Linked DNA regions of Homo sapiens: all the other regions are reported to be linked to region 2. The links are microRNA targets in miRTarBase. Many come from high-throughput screens and were not tested one by one. Region 2 holds a microRNA gene; each other region holds the end of a gene's coding sequence. Distances are between the middles of the regions.
What was found. Region 2 holds the annotated microRNA hsa-miR-7162-3p (UCUGAGGUGGAACAGCAGC, at 1,604-1,622, opposite strand). A microRNA usually pairs through its seed, bases 2 to 8, with sites in the 3' UTR of a target mRNA and lowers its output. Matches are read on the target gene's strand: a 7mer-m8 pairs with bases 2 to 8, a 7mer-A1 pairs with bases 2 to 7 and ends in A, and an 8mer does both.

Region 1 (4,258 bases), 23 Mb from region 2:
CAAAAAACAAAATAAACATATTTGGCTATTTAGTAATATAATTAAGAACATGAGTAAACCATAGTATTCGAGGTCCAAGTATTAGTTGCCAGCCTAAAAACTAAATATGGCCAGGCGCAGTGGCTCATGCCTGTAATCCCAGCACTTTGGGAGGCCGAGGCGGGTGGATCACCTGAGGTCAGGAGTTCCAGACCAGCCTGGCCAACATGGCAAAACCCCGTCTCTACTAAAAAAGTACAAAAATTAGCTGGGCGTGGTGGCGGGCACCTGTAATCCCAGCTACTCGGGAGGCTGAGGCAGGAGAATGACTTGAACCCAGGAGGAGGTTGCAGTGAGCTGAGATCACGCCACTGCACTCCAGCCTGGGCAACAGAACAAGACTCCATCTCCAAAAAAAAAAAAAACCTCTAAATATATTGTGTTAATTTATAGAAAAATTGTAATTTAAATTACATATTCATAGTCTTGCCTACTTGCATGAGCATGTTTTTATTGCTTCTAACCTGGATTGAAATCTATGACTTTTTATAACAGTCATTGAGTCTGTTTCAAAGGAATCTTGTGGTAAGTATTTTTGCATGATGTACTCAAGGTATCAAGTTTAACAATTGACTTTTTTTCATTGGAAAGCATATGTGATTAACTAGCATGGATTGCTTCTTGACCTGCTTGTTTTGTGTTTGTCTTTTTCTTCTAATATAATAACCAGGGATTAATGAAAATCAAGTTCCATCCTCAGACAAGAGGTAAAGTTCACACATTCTTCCCATGTCTGTTCAGAAAAGAAACCTATTCAGATATAAGTTAAGCTAATTTAGTAATCCTAGAATTGTCCTCTGAGAGATTTAGATGGATGGGCCACTTCACAGTAGCAGCCAACTCACGGGAGCACCTGGGCAACGCTAGTGGACTTTTTTGTAGTGAGTGTGTTGATCATAGAAAATGTAGATATAAGGAAATAAACTTTGAGGATAGAGAATTAACATTATTTTGAGATATTATATATAGGTTGTGAAGAGTGGTGGTTGTCACACTTTATGGTCTCTGGACCCCTTAATGTCTGATTCATGTAGCAGAAGCCAGCTAGATTTTCATCTGTCTCTATTCATTTTGTTGTGATGTCATGGATCATGTGGCCTCTGGAAAACTCTACTGTATACTCGAGAATGAGAATATAACAGGCAAAATAACATTATCATGAAAATAGTTTTGACCTCATGAACCCCATGAAAGGTTCCCCAGACCAAAATTTTAGAATCACTGGTATAGGGTAACACTTTATTGTGTAAATTCAGTTCTCTGTACCCCACTTAAATATGTATTATTATCTCTTGACATTATTTTCCCAAAAAATGCTGTTTGATTTCTTACTTGTTCTGTACTTTGTTTTTCAGGTAAAGAAGGAAAATTCAGCCAGTTGATTTTGTTTTTAGCTTACTGCTGCCTTTGTCCGAAGAAACTGTTCCTCCATTATTTGAATTACTGAAGACAGCAAGATATTTGTAAATTATCTTAAAATAAACAACTTAAAATAAAATCATTGTTTTTCTTATATATAAGAACAATAGATATAGTTTTTGAAATGAGATGATACTAAAACATTTAAAAATATTAATATGCTACTATTAAAATTTTTTAGTAGAAGACAATTTAAGAGGCTCTTTTGATTTGGTAGTGCTCCACTGACCTTAAAATGTCTAGCCTCTATGGGGACAACGTAGAGGGAAAGGGCTGCAGCCACAGCCTCAGCCCAGTTCTGTGCCTTATTACAGCCTTAAAGAACAGTCAACAAGACCAGGCACGGTGGCTCATGCCTGCAGTCCTAACACTTTGGGAGACTGAGACTCAAGGTGGATCACTGGAGGTCAGGAATTTGAGACTAGCCTGGCCAACATGGTGAAACCCTGTTTCTACTAAAAACAAAACAAAATACAAAAATGGTGCACACTTGTAATCCCAGCTACTCAGGAGGCTGAGGCAGGAGAATCGGTTAAACCTGGGAGGCAGAGGTTGCAGTGAGCTGAGATCGCGCCACTGTACTCCAGCCTGGGCAACAGAGTAAGACTCTGTTCCAAAAAAAAAAAAAAAATGCCACAGGAAGCATTTGCTTGGAATTCTGGATACAAAATTGCAAGCATATACTTACTCTAAATTATTTAAAACATCTTTTCTAAACACTGAGAAAAGTACGATACTCACATTTAGATCACAATTAAGATTAGATGCCTGCGTTGACTCCACACTCTGAGTTGGCCATGCCAAAATTTCAGGCTTTTCCCTATTTGTTTAAAATTGATAACTTAGTTTTTTGGGTTTTTTTTAATTACAAAAGTAATATATAAATTCCAAAATACATAAAATTATAAACAATATAAAACCCATTCTTAACAAGCTCCTCTTTTAAAAACAAATGAATGCATGTATTTAGAATGGATTCTTTAAATATTTACAGCTATATTCGTGGTAATGAATAAAAAGGTTCAGTGAACTGACCAGAGCTTCAAAGTCATTTTCTAACTCCCCTCAAAGTTTTCAGGAGCCACTTCTGAAGGGGTTGGTGGCTGAGACTAGGAGAAAGAAACAGCTCACAACTGAGGAATCAGATGGAGGTGTAGTGTGAACCAGTACAAGATACCTTTTGGGAATGTTAGCAACGAACCACGTGCCTCTGGAGGCTGTGTGTATGTGTGTGTGTGTGTGTGCACGCCACTATACCTGGCTAATTTAAAAAAAAATTTTTTTTTTAGAGATGGGGTCTTGCTATTTTGCCCAGTCTGGTCTTGAACTCCTGGGCTCAAGTGATCCTCCTTAGCCCTGCAAAGTGCTGGAATTACAGGTGTGAGCCACCATGCCCATCCTGTTTTGTATTTTGCTTCTAAGCTTGGCTTGACCCACCTCCAGTTTCTAGGAGAGCAGAACACATTTGTGAGGGTGATTTGAGTGTCCTAGACATCATGGAAGGAGGAAAAGCAGGAATTTGAAATCAGTCAACATAAGTAAGAATAATCTGTGTCTGAACTGGAATACTAGCTCAGCCCTTAACAGCTGTGACCTTGGGCAAGTTACTTAATCTTTCAGTTTTATGATCTATAAGATGGAGATTAAAAGATTGTTAGGATTAAATGAGCTAATATTTTAAAATATCGAGAATCTGACAGGGAGTAAGTGCTATATTCTTGGTTAAATGTCTGCTCTATGTAAAATTAATCATCAGCTCCCTGTAGCCTTTAGTGGTGCTCTTCTGTGTACTGGCACTCTGACTCTCTGAGGATACAATAACAAAACGCCTCCTTGCAGGAGCTTACAGTCTGGAGGGAACACAAGCAAATGACAGAATGTGGTAAGTTACAATTGGTGAGCCACAAGAGGGACAGTGACTCAATTTGGGGACAGATGAAGGGGACTGAGAAGGCCGTCCAGCTTGGAGGAAGGGAGGTCTAAACAGTCCTCAAGGACCAGTGACCAACAGTAGAAATTAAACTACTAGAGCTAACTGGTGGGGAGGGAAGGCATTTCAGGCCAAGGAAGCAGAAAAAGCAAAGACCAAAATCTGTTCAAATGCACATTCTGAAAACTGCTAATACAGAGAACGAGAAAGGCAAGATAAATCTGGAAAGGTGAGTGTACCATGCTGTGTGGTTTAGACATGTAGGAAGGAATCAAAGAGTAAGCTTGAAATTTTCCCCCAACTTCTGTCCTCTCCTTTTGCTAAGTGGCATAACACAGTGGAATTACAGTGATAAATGACCACTGGTAAGGTTTATTACATAATTCAAACTGCTTTTTTTTTTGAGATGAGGTCTGGCTCTTATCGCCCAGGCTGGAGTGCAGTGGCAGGATCTTGACTTACTGCAAACTTCACCTCCTGGGCTCAAGCCATCCTCCCACCTCAGCCTCCCAAGTAACTGGGACTACACCATGCCTGGCTGATTTTTGTATTTTTAGTAGAGACAGGGTTTTGCCATGTTGCCCAGGCTGGTCTCGAACTCCTGGCCTCAGTGATCTGCCTGGCTCGGCCTCCTGAAGTGCTGGGATTACAGGAGTGAGCCACTGCTCCTGGCTATCCTATTTTCTGCAAACACCTACACAGTACCTAAAGGGCTAGGTCTGTTAATTTTAATATTCTAGGATTGAGTTTCCATCATTACAACTGTTGTCTATAATGTGCCCTTTAGGAAACTGTTTCTCTGTGTGCTTTAATATAGAATAGTTGAAGCTTTCAGAAATTTTATTATCATTATTCAAAACTCTCTAAATG
Region 2 (4,000 bases):
CTAAGTGTGCTATATGACTAATACTTTCCATGTATTATCTCATTTAATCCTCAGCACCTCTGCAAGGAAAATGCTAACTTCCTTTTGAAGTTAAAGGAACAGAGACTTAGAGATGCAAAGTGGTTGAATGGCGACCAGTGGAACTGAGGCTGGAATCTAGTTTGAATCTAAGGAGACTTTTTTGTTTTTGTTTTGTTTTGTTTCGTTTTGCGACAGAGTGTCACTCTGTGGCCCAGACTAGAGTGCAGTGGTGCAATGTCAGCTCACTGCAACCTCCACCTCCCAGGCTCAAGCGATTCTCATGCCTCAACTTCCTGAGTAGTTGGGATTACAGGCATGCGCCACCATGCCCGGCTAGTGTGTGTGTGTGTGTGTGTGTGTGTGTGTGTGTGTGTGTGTGTGTGTGTGTGTGTGATATTGGTAGAGATGAGGTTTTGCCATGTTATCCAGACTGGTCTCAAACTCCAGACCCCAAGTGATTCTCCTGCCTCAGCCTCCCAAAGTGCTGGGATTACAGGCGTGAGCCACCATGCCTGACATAAGGAGCCTCTTATACCACGACTCCTCCCCTGTGATTGGGGGGCTCCATGCCTCTAGCTGGGATGATGATGTCCACACCTGGGAGGAGCCCAGGGCTACCCACCTCTAAAAGTCAGAGGGCAGGAAGCAAGAAACAGTCACAGGACTGCCCTGGAGGGAGCTGGGGTCACCTGCCCCCGGGCTGGAGCTGCTTTTGGCCTCACACCTCCCCTCCCCAGAGGCTGGTGCTCACCTCCCAGCCCTTCTTGGATGGGCAGAGGTTACAGTCTCCTTCAGCTTGCCCAGCTTCTCCTGCAGCTCCTTTACTTGCTGCTCCAACTGTAGTGCACTCTTATTCTCGTTGTTCTGGACAGAGAGAAGCAATCAGTGGCCACCCACTGCAGCTGGAGACCCCAGAACTTGGTGTCTGCCTCCCATGGCACCAGGAAGGGTGGAGGCAGGTTAGAAAAATTATCCCCTCTCTCCCACAGCCATCAGAGCAGGGCTCTGGCTCACAGGTGCCTTTAGAAGTACCATTTCACGTGAGGGCTACACTGCCCCATCTTACAGGTGGGGAATCAAAGGCCTGGAGGGCAAGGGAGGAGGGCAGGCTCACGAGGCGGGGCAACGCACCAGCTCCTCTAAGCCGCTCTGTGGCCCAGCCAGCTGCTAGTCGAGCTCATGGTTCTGAGAGAGCACGTGGTTGATGGTGGTGTGGTTCCGCAGGGCCTGCATGCACGTCTCTGCCTGCTCCTCCCAGAGCTTGGCTTTCCGCCCCAGCTCGAGCAGCCTGTCCTCCTGCTCCGCAGCCTCTCCTCCCACTCCCGTAGCCTCTCCTCCCGCTCCCGCAGACTCTCCTCCCGCTCCCGCAGACTCTCCTCCCGCTCTCCCAGCCTCTCCTACTCCTGCAGCTTCTCCTCCAGCTCCTGCAGCCTCTCCTGCTCCCGCAGCGTCTCCCGTTCCAGCAGCCTCTCCTCCTGCTCCCAGTTCAGGTGACTCAAGCCTTGATTGTTTTGCACCTGAGCTTGGAGCTGTCCTGCCAGACTCTCCTGCTCCTTCCTCGGGTGCTCGGCCTCAGCTTGTAGCTGCTGTTCCACCTCAGAGGGCCCTGCTGGGGGCTCCAGGGGCAGGGGTTCAGCTGAGAAAGGAAGCAGACAACAAGGGCCTCTGGGTTAACAAAACAAAACAAAACAAAACAACAAATAAAAGCCCTTCTCTTGGTGCACAGATCCTCTCAGGCTCCCCAAACTTGGCCTCACTGCTAACGATTCCTCGCTCTCGGATGGTAGCCAATCTTCCAAGCCACTTTCAGATAGAGAGCACTGTGGGTGGCTGACAATGAGCACTCCTCCCTCTTTGTTGATGGCGACACTGAGGTTCATGGAGATTATAAGACTTGCCGTCTCCTGGCACAGACCTCTTTCCCTCTGCCTCAAAGCCCTTCCATCTACCCACCTCCCTGGGGCATTCTAAGCCATCCCCACAGCCCTCTGATGCCAGTCCTGCTCCCAGGCCATGCCAGCCCCATCTTACCCATCTAGTTTTTGAGTTCGGCCAAGCTCCTCTCCAGCTCCTGTACCCGATGCCTGTCATGCTTCTTCTCCTCCTTCCATGTGCAAACCTGCCCAAAGCACGGGGGACAGGGCCCTGGAGAGAGGGGCTGGTGGTTGGACAGGCTACCAACTCCCTCTCTGCCTCCACCTCTACAAAGCCCAGACCCATGACCACCTCTGGCTGTACTATTCCCATTTTACAGATGGCCAGAAAGATCCAGTGACCTATCTAAAGTGGGGGGCTTAAGGGTCAGGTCTCACCTCCTCTGACATTTTCCATACCCTCTGCTGCCACCGGGCCCTCTCTCCTTTTAGATGTTGAGTATATTCATCTGTCTCTAGCTGGACTTGTTCCAACATCTGCAAGAATGGGCACAGAAGTTAGGAAAGGCTGTCACTGGTCCTCACCTGCTCCTGGCCACCTGGCGTCATCTTCCTCCCACATCCCTCCCTCTACAAAGCTTCACCTGTGTCACGTGTGCTTCCAGCTGTGCCCGAGCCTTTATGGACTGCCATAACTGCCGCTTGAGGACTGCTTCACAGCGGCTCGAGGACTGTATGGTGAAGAGTGAGAAGTTTCGATCTGGGGAGCCTGGGCCGTTCCACACAGTGCCCCTTAAAAGGGCTAGGGTTAGGCTCAATATACAACTTGGTCAGTAAAGGTCAAGGCATTTCTAAGCCTGTGGTCTGGTTTTTAAAAGAACTCAGTAAAGTTGGAAGGGACAGGGAAAAAGATCGAATTTACAGCTGGCTAACAGAGGCCCAGAGAGATCAGATAATATTGCTGTTGTTATTACTGTTATTACTACCACTGTTTGAATGTTTATTGAGTGCTTCGCCAGTTACCATGCTAACGATCCCACTGAATCCTCATAACCACCATATGAGACAGTTACTATGATTACCTCTATTATTAGTATTAGAGTTACTATTAGAGTATTAGAGTTTCTATTATTAGTATTAGAGGTTAAGTGCTTGCCTAAGGTCACTTAGACAGAGCTGGGATTTGAATACCCAGGTCTATCCTATTCTCTAAGCCCATTTTTCTTGCTGGGGGTTGGGGCACAGATAGGAAGGGGGAAATTAATCTTTTATTCATTTTTTGAAAGGATGATACATTCACATAGTCCACAACTCAGAAGGTACAGACGGGAAGTATCTCCCAGCCACCCTGTTGCTCTCTGCTGAATTTTTTACAAATCCTTGCAGACATGTTTTATGTATATTATCATAGTACGTACGTACACACACACACACACACGTTCCCCCTCTCTACACAAATGGTAACATACTAAAGGTACTCTTCTGTACCTTCACAGTACAAGTATGCAATCCCCCACCTAGGACTTTGTCAAGGCCACAGCCAGGTAACAGCAGGGTGGGCACTTGGCCTCCAAGCTCTGCATCCAGTGCTCGCTCCCCACAGTGCCCCGCAACTAACCCACAGCAGCTGACTCAGCCCCAGGCTGCCTCTAACAACCACACACAAAAGCAGCAAGAAATGGCCATGCTGCCTTCTGGGCAGGACATTCCACCCTGCAGCAAAGAGGGCAGTAACAGAAGAGCCATGCTGCATGCTCCATGCTCTGGGGTCCCTCAGGGTGAGGCCTGGGCACCCCAGCTCCCCATTTACCCTTAGCACCAGAGGCCCCCAGACCCTTTCTTCAGGGCCCCAAAGGGAAACTGAAGCCCAGGATTGGCAGTGTGGAATCAGGGGACCCCACTGGACTCTTAGCAATGACTCGGTGTTTTCATTGAGTTGATTGATTGTTGTGGAGCTCAAGTCCAGGGCTACTGCTAGTTCTTGGTACTGGCTCTGAGGCACATGCAGAGAGGAGGAATTGGAGGAGGATTGCGGGGAGAGGTAGAGAGAACAATCATTAGGGCTGGGGTGTGTGTGGGCTGTCTCAGCTGGCAGAGGGGCACTC
Region 3 (4,258 bases), not on the chromosome of region 2:
TTGCCAGGGGACCTTGGGCAGATTTCTTAGCCTTTCTGAGCATTCAGTTATAAGGGCAAATATTTTTGGAGGCACAGTGTGGACGCGTAGTATGAACTGAATGAAAGAAATCGGTTTCGTCAAAAATAAACAGAGTTGAATTAGTTGTTAAAAAAAAAAAAAAAACATCAATACTTAAAAGGTAAGTTTCCATCATCTTGAAAATACATTTATTTGAGATGCCATTTGGACAATGACTTTAACTATATATTAAGGTTCATTCAACTCTTTCCCTTCCCAAACCTCTCCTATTTGTTTGAACTAAATATTTCCTTTTTTTTTTTTTTTTTTTGTTTGTTTGTTTGAGACAGGGTCTTGCCCTGTCGCCCAGGCTGGAGTACAGTGGCTCAATCATGGCTCACTGCAGCCTAGACCTCCAGGCTTCAAGTGATCCTCCTGCCTCAGTCTCTCAAGTAGCTGGGACTACAGGTGCATGCCACCACTCCCGGCTAATTAAAAAAAAAAATTGTAGAGAAGGGGGTCTTGCTATGTGGTCCAGGCTGGTCTTGAACTCGTGGGCTCAAGTAATCCTCCAGCCTCAGCCTTCCAGAGTGCTGGGATTACAGGTGTGAGCCACCGCGTCCAGCTATATTTCCTTTTCTAGAAGTGTTCTCTCGGACTGCTGACAGGTCCACCATAAAAGATTGTTCCCGTATATGAAGTTCTGAGTGACTACCATATGCCAACCACTCTATATGGATTTTCTTATTTGACACTGTGAGGTAAGCACTTTTATTACTTCTGTTTTATAGATTACAAAACCAAGCTCAGTGAGGTTTGCTAATGTGCTCGACATACAGTCAGTAAGAGACACCTGAAGGGCCAGTAGCAATGGAGGAACAGGAGACCCTAAGAGAAAAATGCTGATGCAATTAGACTTTACCTAGTCTCCCCCACCTTCCAGACTGGAGCCCTGACACAAAGACTTTGTCAGACAAGCACACAGAGGGGAAGATTTCACTTTATTGTTACATCAGTCTCACAAATGAACCCAACACAGCCAGAAACACTGAAAGGATAAAGTGCCAATGCAGAGAGGCCTGGCAACAGGAGGAGGGAGGAATCCAGTTCGTCTCCTCCACGTCCCCAGCCTGGCAATATATTTCTATTACACAAGAGTGAGGGCAGCTGACATACCAGGCAACCCATTGTATAGACACTTTGAGCTAAGAAATAGAAAATTGTACCAGGTAGGGTCTGTGCAGGGCAAGAAAATAGAAAGAAGTCAGAAAATGTTATTTTCCCGAGTCAGGCATGGAAATATCAAATGATAAAACCAATATTTTTCAAACTCTGTTATTTGAGATAGACATCTAATAAGGAATGAGACAGGTCTGGTGCTTCATGCTACTGCCTATTTTCAGAACTATGACACCCTTTCTCCCACACCCTCAATGTAAGGTACCAGAATTTTTTAGGACTCCTGGGAAAAACTGACCTCACCTTCTTACCTTCTCAGCCCCCAAAAATTAGACCCAGTGCTCCCTCATGCACATCAAGGAGATATGAGCTAGGAGAATAATCAACTTGGAGGCATTTAAAGAAAGTGAATGAAGGCCGGGTGCGGTGGCTCACGCCTGTAATCCCAGCACTTTGGGAGGCTGAGGTGGGCGGACCACAAGGTCAGGAGATCGAGACCATCCTAGCTAACACGGTGAAACCCGTCTCTACTAAAAATACAAAAAATTAGCCAGGCGTGGTGGCAGGTGCCTGTAGTCCCAGCTACTTGGGAGGCTGAGGCAGGAGAATGGCATGAACCCGGGAGGCGGAGCTTGCAGTGAACCGAGATCGTGCCACTGCACTCCAGCCTGGGCAACAGAGTGAGACTCTGTCTAAAAAAAAAAAAAAAAAAAGAATAAACCAGCAGGAACCTTCAACATGCCTCACTGTGGCTAAGAGTCAAGGCTCAGAGTAGAACTTTCAAGTAGGGAAGTAAAGGGTGAGCTTTACTTCAACTTAGTACCAGGATAAGAGGCAGGCCAAAGTATTGCCATGAAAGGTAGGGAAGGAGCATGGAGAGGCCTCAGTGGAAAGGTACAAATCCCCGCTAGGTAAGAGAATGGGGTGTTGCTAGAGGGAGTGCTGAAGGCTGGTAACCCCGGGATCACCCCTCATGAGCTTTAGATATAGCCTCCCAACCATGGCTGTGCTTAGCTTCCTATCTAGCTTCTTTAGGTAGAGGCTGATAGGAAGGGGGCCTAGGGAATGACCCCATGACAACTGACTGCAGTATGGCTGCCTAGTTGTTCAAATGATAGTCACCAAGTTCCTAGGCTTTAGGGAGCTTCTGTGAGGCCCAAATCATTCAGAGTTCCAAAGGGCTGTTCAGTAGGGGCAGTTGCTGAACACCAGACAAGGTAGTTGGTAGTACTTGGCAAAGTTCAAAGTGGGATCCTTTAAACAAACACTCTGAGAACTACTGCTATGACACAGGGTAGACTTGGGAATATCTTAAAGGGATACCCACAGCTAGCTATTTTTCTGACTTGTCCAAGCACTTCTATGACCAAACTGAAGGGGAGATTCCATTATAGACACCTGTGTGCCTAATGTGACACCCCAGTCAAAAAGCTTCAAGAAACCTTGTATTCTCCCCAACCTTTGACAGGGGTCAGGAAATACTGGGCAGTTATAAAAAGTTGTCCTTAACATTGCCGGCTCCTGCTCTGCCTCTTTCCTTGTATCAGGACAGAACTGAACATCTCAATTCCCTGCCTGAAAATGTCATTCCCTGCCTCCCAGAAAGGTTTATCTAGATAGGCCTCTCCACCAACTGATTCTACTCAGTCTACTCCCTTCTATTCTGGCCTTGCTCTTTTTTTCCCCCCATCTTTCTCTACTCCTGGTTTCCAGCTACTTCAGTCCTTGACAGACACATAATAGGATGGGCAGAAATGCTGATCGGATCTTGGGAGTAATCAACGTCTGACAGTGACACTCTGATTTACTTAAGCCTTCAATTCCATATCAGAGAGGGATTAATATTCCTCTGTCTGTGGTTCCTCCTTTCCTCCAAGAGGTTCACAGTGAGAAACCATTTCATTCATCTTTGTACGCTCGTTTTTAGGCACCAAGATGAGGGCCTAAATGTGACAGTTTGGGGCAAGGAACTTTTACTGGGCTTGGCACACAGGAGGGAGAGCTACCCAAATCATCCTAGCATCCATCTCCAGAGAATATTCCTCCCATGCTCTGCCTTTTTTTTTTTTTTTTTAACACATTCTCACCTCTTTGCCCTCCTGTTAAAGGCTTGAATACAAATGAGGCAGCATGGGAGTCTTGGCTTGGAAATCAGGTCTGCGTTCTTGGTCCCTTCAGTCACTGACCTAATATATGAACTTAGACAATTCACTTGCCTCTCTGGACCTTTAAATGAAAGAGTTAAACTGTAATGGATAATGTCCCTGGGCTCTTTCACATAATCCATACTTGAGAAATCAATGAATCAATTTGAAGAAACTCTAATTCTAAGACATAGGTATCCTGGCACCTGTTTGAAACAGCTGAAAGGAGGTAAAGGTCAGGTTCCTGTTTATTATACATTTAGCTATAGGAAAAGAAGCACATATATCTATGGAGACACAGAACCTGGCAGCCCCTATACTTGACTAATAAAAGCAAATTCCTGGAAGAAGCAGAGAAATAGGCCACAAGTGAGACTGGCAGTGTCAAAAAAGGTCTATAAGTTAAGTGATCAAAGTAGTAAAAAACAATGGCCATAACCAGACAAGATCTCTAAGCATAGACTATAGTCTAGAGAGGTCTGAATGGGAAGGAGCCCCTGGAGCTTCTATTAGATGGAAGGACTTGGTCCACAGCAAGTCACTACGGCATTTGGTTCAAACCCAGTTTTCTCTATCTGTCAACCCGGTGTGTATGCATGCACACGTGCAGACATGCTGCAGGCTGTAGTTATGCTTCTGAAGTGCTGAAATGAGAAATAAATATCAGGAGAAATAATGCCAAATTCAAAAAAAGTTAAGCTGAAGGCAAGTAAAATTTTGCTTTCAAAGCTAGTCATTTCCCTACCACTCTGTGTGGCATCACCATTGCTCATTCTGATGTGTGCACTACAGAGTTTTGTGGGGTGATGAACTCTGGGTGTGGGGAAGGGTGGATTTGTAGTATAATTGAAAGCCAAAGACAGGATACAACCCCATGTCCTGTCTGAGAACCACCACCACCCTGCTCGCAGCTGATGACAAATGGATGTGACTTG
Region 4 (4,258 bases), not on the chromosome of region 2:
CCCTTCCCAACAGCGCCCTGTCTTGTCATTGCAAGTAGAATCCGGGCAGCCGCTTTCCTCTGGATAAACTCACCTTTTCCCTTCCCACACCTCTGCCGTTGTCCACGCAGGTGCGACGTTGTGTGTCATCTGTCAGGACCGGAGCTCACTGCGCCAGACGGTCGTCCGCCTGGAGCTCGAGGACGAGTGGCAGTTCCGGCTGCGCGATGAGTTCCAGACCGCCAATGCCAGGGAAGACCGGCCGCTCTTTTTTCTGACGGGACGACACATCTGAGGAAGACAGCGGCGAGTTTTCTGAAGAGATGAGTGCTCAGAGCCCTCATGCTGTTGAGGCTAAAGGGAGGCCTGGAACGGTGGGGCGTTTGACTGGAATGGACCCCAGGGACTGTCCAGGTGCAGCCCCTCCTAGTACACATGGGCCCCCGAGGCCGTGGTCCTGGGAGCCAGGAAGACTCCGCAGTGGGTGAGAATGAAAACTTGAGACTCCCAAGTTCTGGGCCAGCCCATTGCTCTGGGCTGTTTTAAAGCCCATTTCACGAGGAACAAAGATTTACTTCCTGTCCTGCCATTCGTGTGCTTCCATGGACAAACCTGATTTTTTTCTCTTAGTTCTAAAGAATCTTGGGTTATTTTGTAGCGGTGCCAGTATTTCAGTAGATGGGATTTCAGCCAAGTAGGTTCCCCTGTAACCTCCTACAAAGCAATATTCCAAAGGAACATTTTAACTGTAAAGGCTGGAGACAAGAAAAAATAAGTAGATCGTTTTAATAACAATTATTTAATTGCCTATAAGTTTGCTGTTTCAGAGGCTAGCCCAAAGGCATCAAATTTAATAAAGTTAAACAAATTGATTTACTTCAGAGCAAATATGATCCTATTAAAATAATATAGGGTAAATACCCTACCTCTTAGAAAGGGCAAAAATGCAAAGAAGCTTTCTTTAAAACTAAAAGGGTTTTTTGGGGGGGGAGTTGGCGGGGAGGAAATAAGGCTAACAGAGGTTGACCTAAAATTAGCCTTACAAAGGAGAAAGGACCACATTGCTTACTTGAAACAGACAATGAAAACAACCAAAGTGATATATAAAATAGTTGATGAGAACTAGACTTATGACTGTAGTTTACTAGAGTTTAGTTTTCAGTTGCTGAAGTAGCTCATTTTCTCTTACTAATGTTTGGTTCCTCAGGGAAGAATCTCACTTGACTAGAGAGGAGGTGGGAACAGAAGAGAGAAGGAGGCAGGGAGATGTATTTCTTAGGGCTCACCCCTTCACAGACTGACAGAATGGTTTTGTTTTGTTTTGTTTTGTTTTGTTTTGTTTTTGAGATGGACTCTAGCTCTGTCACCCAGGCTGGAGTGCAGTGGTGCGATCTCGGCTCACTGCAAGCTCCGCCTCCCGGGTTCTCACCATTCTCCTGCCTCAGCCTCCCGAGTAGCTGGGACTACAGGCGCCCACCACCACGCCCGGCTAATTTTTTGTATTTTTTAGTAGAGACGGGGTTTCACCATGTTAGCCAGGATGGTCTCGATCTCCTGACCTCGTGATCCGCCCGCCTCGGCCTCCCAAAGTGCTGGGATTACAGGCGTGAGCCACCGTGCCTGCCCCAGAATGGTTTTTAAAGCCACAGTTGAGAGGCCACCCATTGCCCGGCGCCTGGACAGTGATCATCTTGTTCATCTTGTTCAGTCCTTTCTTGTGTGATTGGAATTATTCATCCCCTTTGAAAGATGAGAAGGTTGAGATGCAAAGAGTCTACCTTTCCAAGTTCTCACTGCTGGAAAGAGCTAGAAGCACAGTTCAAAGTTCTGGCTTCTGGACTCTGCAGTCCAGGTCTCCCTTCTCCCACTTGCCTACCCTCAATGCCACACTGTTTTTGAAGTGGCCCATAACTTGAAGGAAAAGTTTAAAGACAGTTCAATTTAATCATCAGAATGCATTCTTTTTTTTTTCGGAGACGGAGTTTCACTCTTGCTGCCCAGGCTGGAGTGCAATGGTGCAATGACCTCGGCTCACTGCAACCTCTGCCTCCTGGGTTCAAGTGATTCTCCAGCCTCAGCCTCCCGAGTAGCTGGGATTATGGGCGCCCACCACCATGCCCAGCTAATTTTTGTATTTTTTTTTTTTAGTAGAGATGGGGTTTCGCCAGGTTGGCCAGGCTGGTCTTGTGAACTCCTGGCCTCAGGTGATCTGCCCACCTCATCCTCCAAAAGTGCTGGGATTACAGGCATGAGCCACTGCGCCTGGCCTCAGAATGCATTCTTACACATCTATCCTAGACATTTATAAGCACTCTAATGGATAACAATCCAAGAATAAATGATTGTAAAAGATGATGCCGAAGAGTTGATGTCAATCTTTTTTTCCTAAGAAAAAAAGTCCGCGAGTATTAAATATTTAGATCAATGTTTATAAAATGATTACTTTGTATATCTCATTATTCCTATTTTGGAATAAAAACTGACCTTCTTTAATCATATACTTGTCTTTTGTAAATAGCAGCTTTTGTGTCATTCTCCCCACTTTATTAGTTAATTTAAATTGGAAAAAACCCTCAAACTAATATTCTTGTCTGTTCCAGTCTTATAAATAAAACTTATAATGCATGTATTGTTTTGTTGGTGAGTATTCATAGCACTGTTTCGAGATAAGGTAGTGTGGCTAGTCATCTCTGGGGACTAGCTGCTTAAAATGGATAGTTTTGGAAAAGAAATAAGAATAAAACCATAAAAGTGGAATATATTAACATGTTGCAGAATTCCTGAGGATAAAAAGGCAGACTGCATTGGACGTGCAGGAGAACAAATATGGAGGAAACCAGCTCAGAATGTGCAGAGAAGCCTGCCACCAAGGGAAGAAAGTTTGGGGGGACTCTGAGCTTCACGGTGGCTGCAAAGAGTGGAAGGGACCTGGGGCATTTGTCTGGATGATCACCAGGGGGAGCGGTTTGGAGCAGCCAGCCTGGTTGATTCCCTGCAGCGCTTCCCGCCGTGCTTCCCATGCTCCACTGACCTGGGCTAAGCATGCGGCCATGGCTAAGGCCAGTGGCCCCCTTGCTCACTCCCCATCAGCTCCCTGGACCCTGCCAGGCAAGTGCCCACTCAGGCCTGCTGCCTCTCATGCCAGGAGTGCTCATCCCTTGGACTCTCCCACACCCTGATGTTTTCTTGCTACTCGTAAGTCACCTTCCCAATGAGGCCATCCCATACTGGGGAACTACTAACATAGAATACATTTTTGCTATTTTTGTCTCCTTCTGTGAAGGTAGGAATTCTGTAAGAAACATTCAGTGCTGCATGCCCAGAGCTTTGAATTTGCCCAGCTCCTGGTATGTGCTCATTCATTGCCCACTCAGTGAATGAATGAATCTCTCATACCCGCAATGATCTCAACATGGGAGCAGGGGTGGGAGTGATCAGTGATGGAGAAACTAAGAAAATAGTGAAGTCGAGCTGAAATTTTTGATTTACAGGGTCAGCACTGATTAATATGCTGGTAGAAAAGGAACATTTAAATATGCATGTTAAGCATTTCGGATGACCACTGGGAGAAAAGAAAGGATGTCCAACATCTAAAACATTAAAGGGAAGACAGCAAACACCACATCAATGAAATCCAACATAAGGAAAGAACAGTTGGGGATGGGGAGAACAACAGGAAATCTTGGCAAATAAGAAACAAAATTAGATGGCAGGTGTGTGTGTCCATTTGTATGTTACTATAAAGGAATACCTGAGACTGGGTAATTTATAAGAGGTTTATTGGCTCACGGTTCTGCAGGCTGTATAGGAAGCATGGTGCTGGCATCTGCTCCTGGTGAAGGCTTCAGGAAGCTTCCAATCACCGTGGAAGGTGAAGGGGGGCAGACACATTGTGAGAGCAGGAGCAAGAGAGAGGTGGGGAGGTGCCACACACTTTTAAACAACCAGATCTCGTGTGAACTCACAGGGAGAACCCACTCATCCTGAGGACAGCACCAAGCAATCTAAGCACGATGGAATCTGCCCCCCATGACCTAAACACCTCCCACCAGGCCCCACCTCCAATATTGGGGATCACATTTCAACATGAGATTTGGAGGGGACAAACATCCAAACATATCAACAGTCAAAAGAAATATAAGTGGATTAAATTTACCTAAAAATAGATTGAGGTGCTCAGATTGGACTGAGAAAGCTAATCAGAATAGAATTTAACATTTTGATCACAAACTTATGTAGACATGCCCACATGCTATGAAATATATAAAGTGAGAACTGT

Region 1: the mRNA of ATP5F1C is a reported target of hsa-miR-7162-3p. Seed matches in the 3' UTR shown: 7mer-A1 at 734-740.
Region 3: the mRNA of NRIP3 is a reported target of hsa-miR-7162-3p. Seed matches in the 3' UTR shown: 7mer-m8 at 1,641-1,647.
Region 4: miRTarBase lists GREB1 as a target of hsa-miR-7162-3p. Seed matches in the 3' UTR shown: 7mer-A1 at 2,246-2,252.

Annotation. Positions count from the first base shown.
Region 1 is chr10:7,806,265-7,810,522 of GRCh38, forward strand. ATP5F1C (ATP synthase F1 subunit gamma) reads left to right here. Exons shown (of 10, transcript NM_001001973.3): 9 at 710-746; 10 at 1,395-1,537. The coding sequence ends at 716. LOC105376392 (a long non-coding RNA gene) reads right to left here. Exons shown (of 3, transcript XR_001747356.1): 2 at 2,200-2,278. Among named protein-coding and RNA genes, the nearest start is that of TAF3, 10 kb to the right of the region's middle.
Region 2 is chr10:30,366,994-30,370,993 of GRCh38, forward strand. It overlaps MIR7162 (microRNA 7162), which reads right to left and starts at 1,672; the gene lies at 1,604-1,672. It also overlaps the pseudogene GOLGA2P6.
Region 3 is chr11:8,979,594-8,983,851 of GRCh38, forward strand. NRIP3 (nuclear receptor interacting protein 3) reads right to left here. Exons shown (of 7, transcript NM_020645.3): 7 at 983-3,967. The coding sequence ends at 3,952. Among named protein-coding and RNA genes, the nearest start is that of TMEM9B-AS1, 17 kb to the left of the region's middle.
Region 4 is chr2:11,640,181-11,644,438 of GRCh38, forward strand. GREB1 (growth regulating estrogen receptor binding 1) reads left to right here. Exons shown (of 33, transcript NM_014668.4): 33 at 111-2,608. The coding sequence ends at 274. Among named protein-coding and RNA genes, the nearest start is that of NTSR2, 28 kb to the right of the region's middle.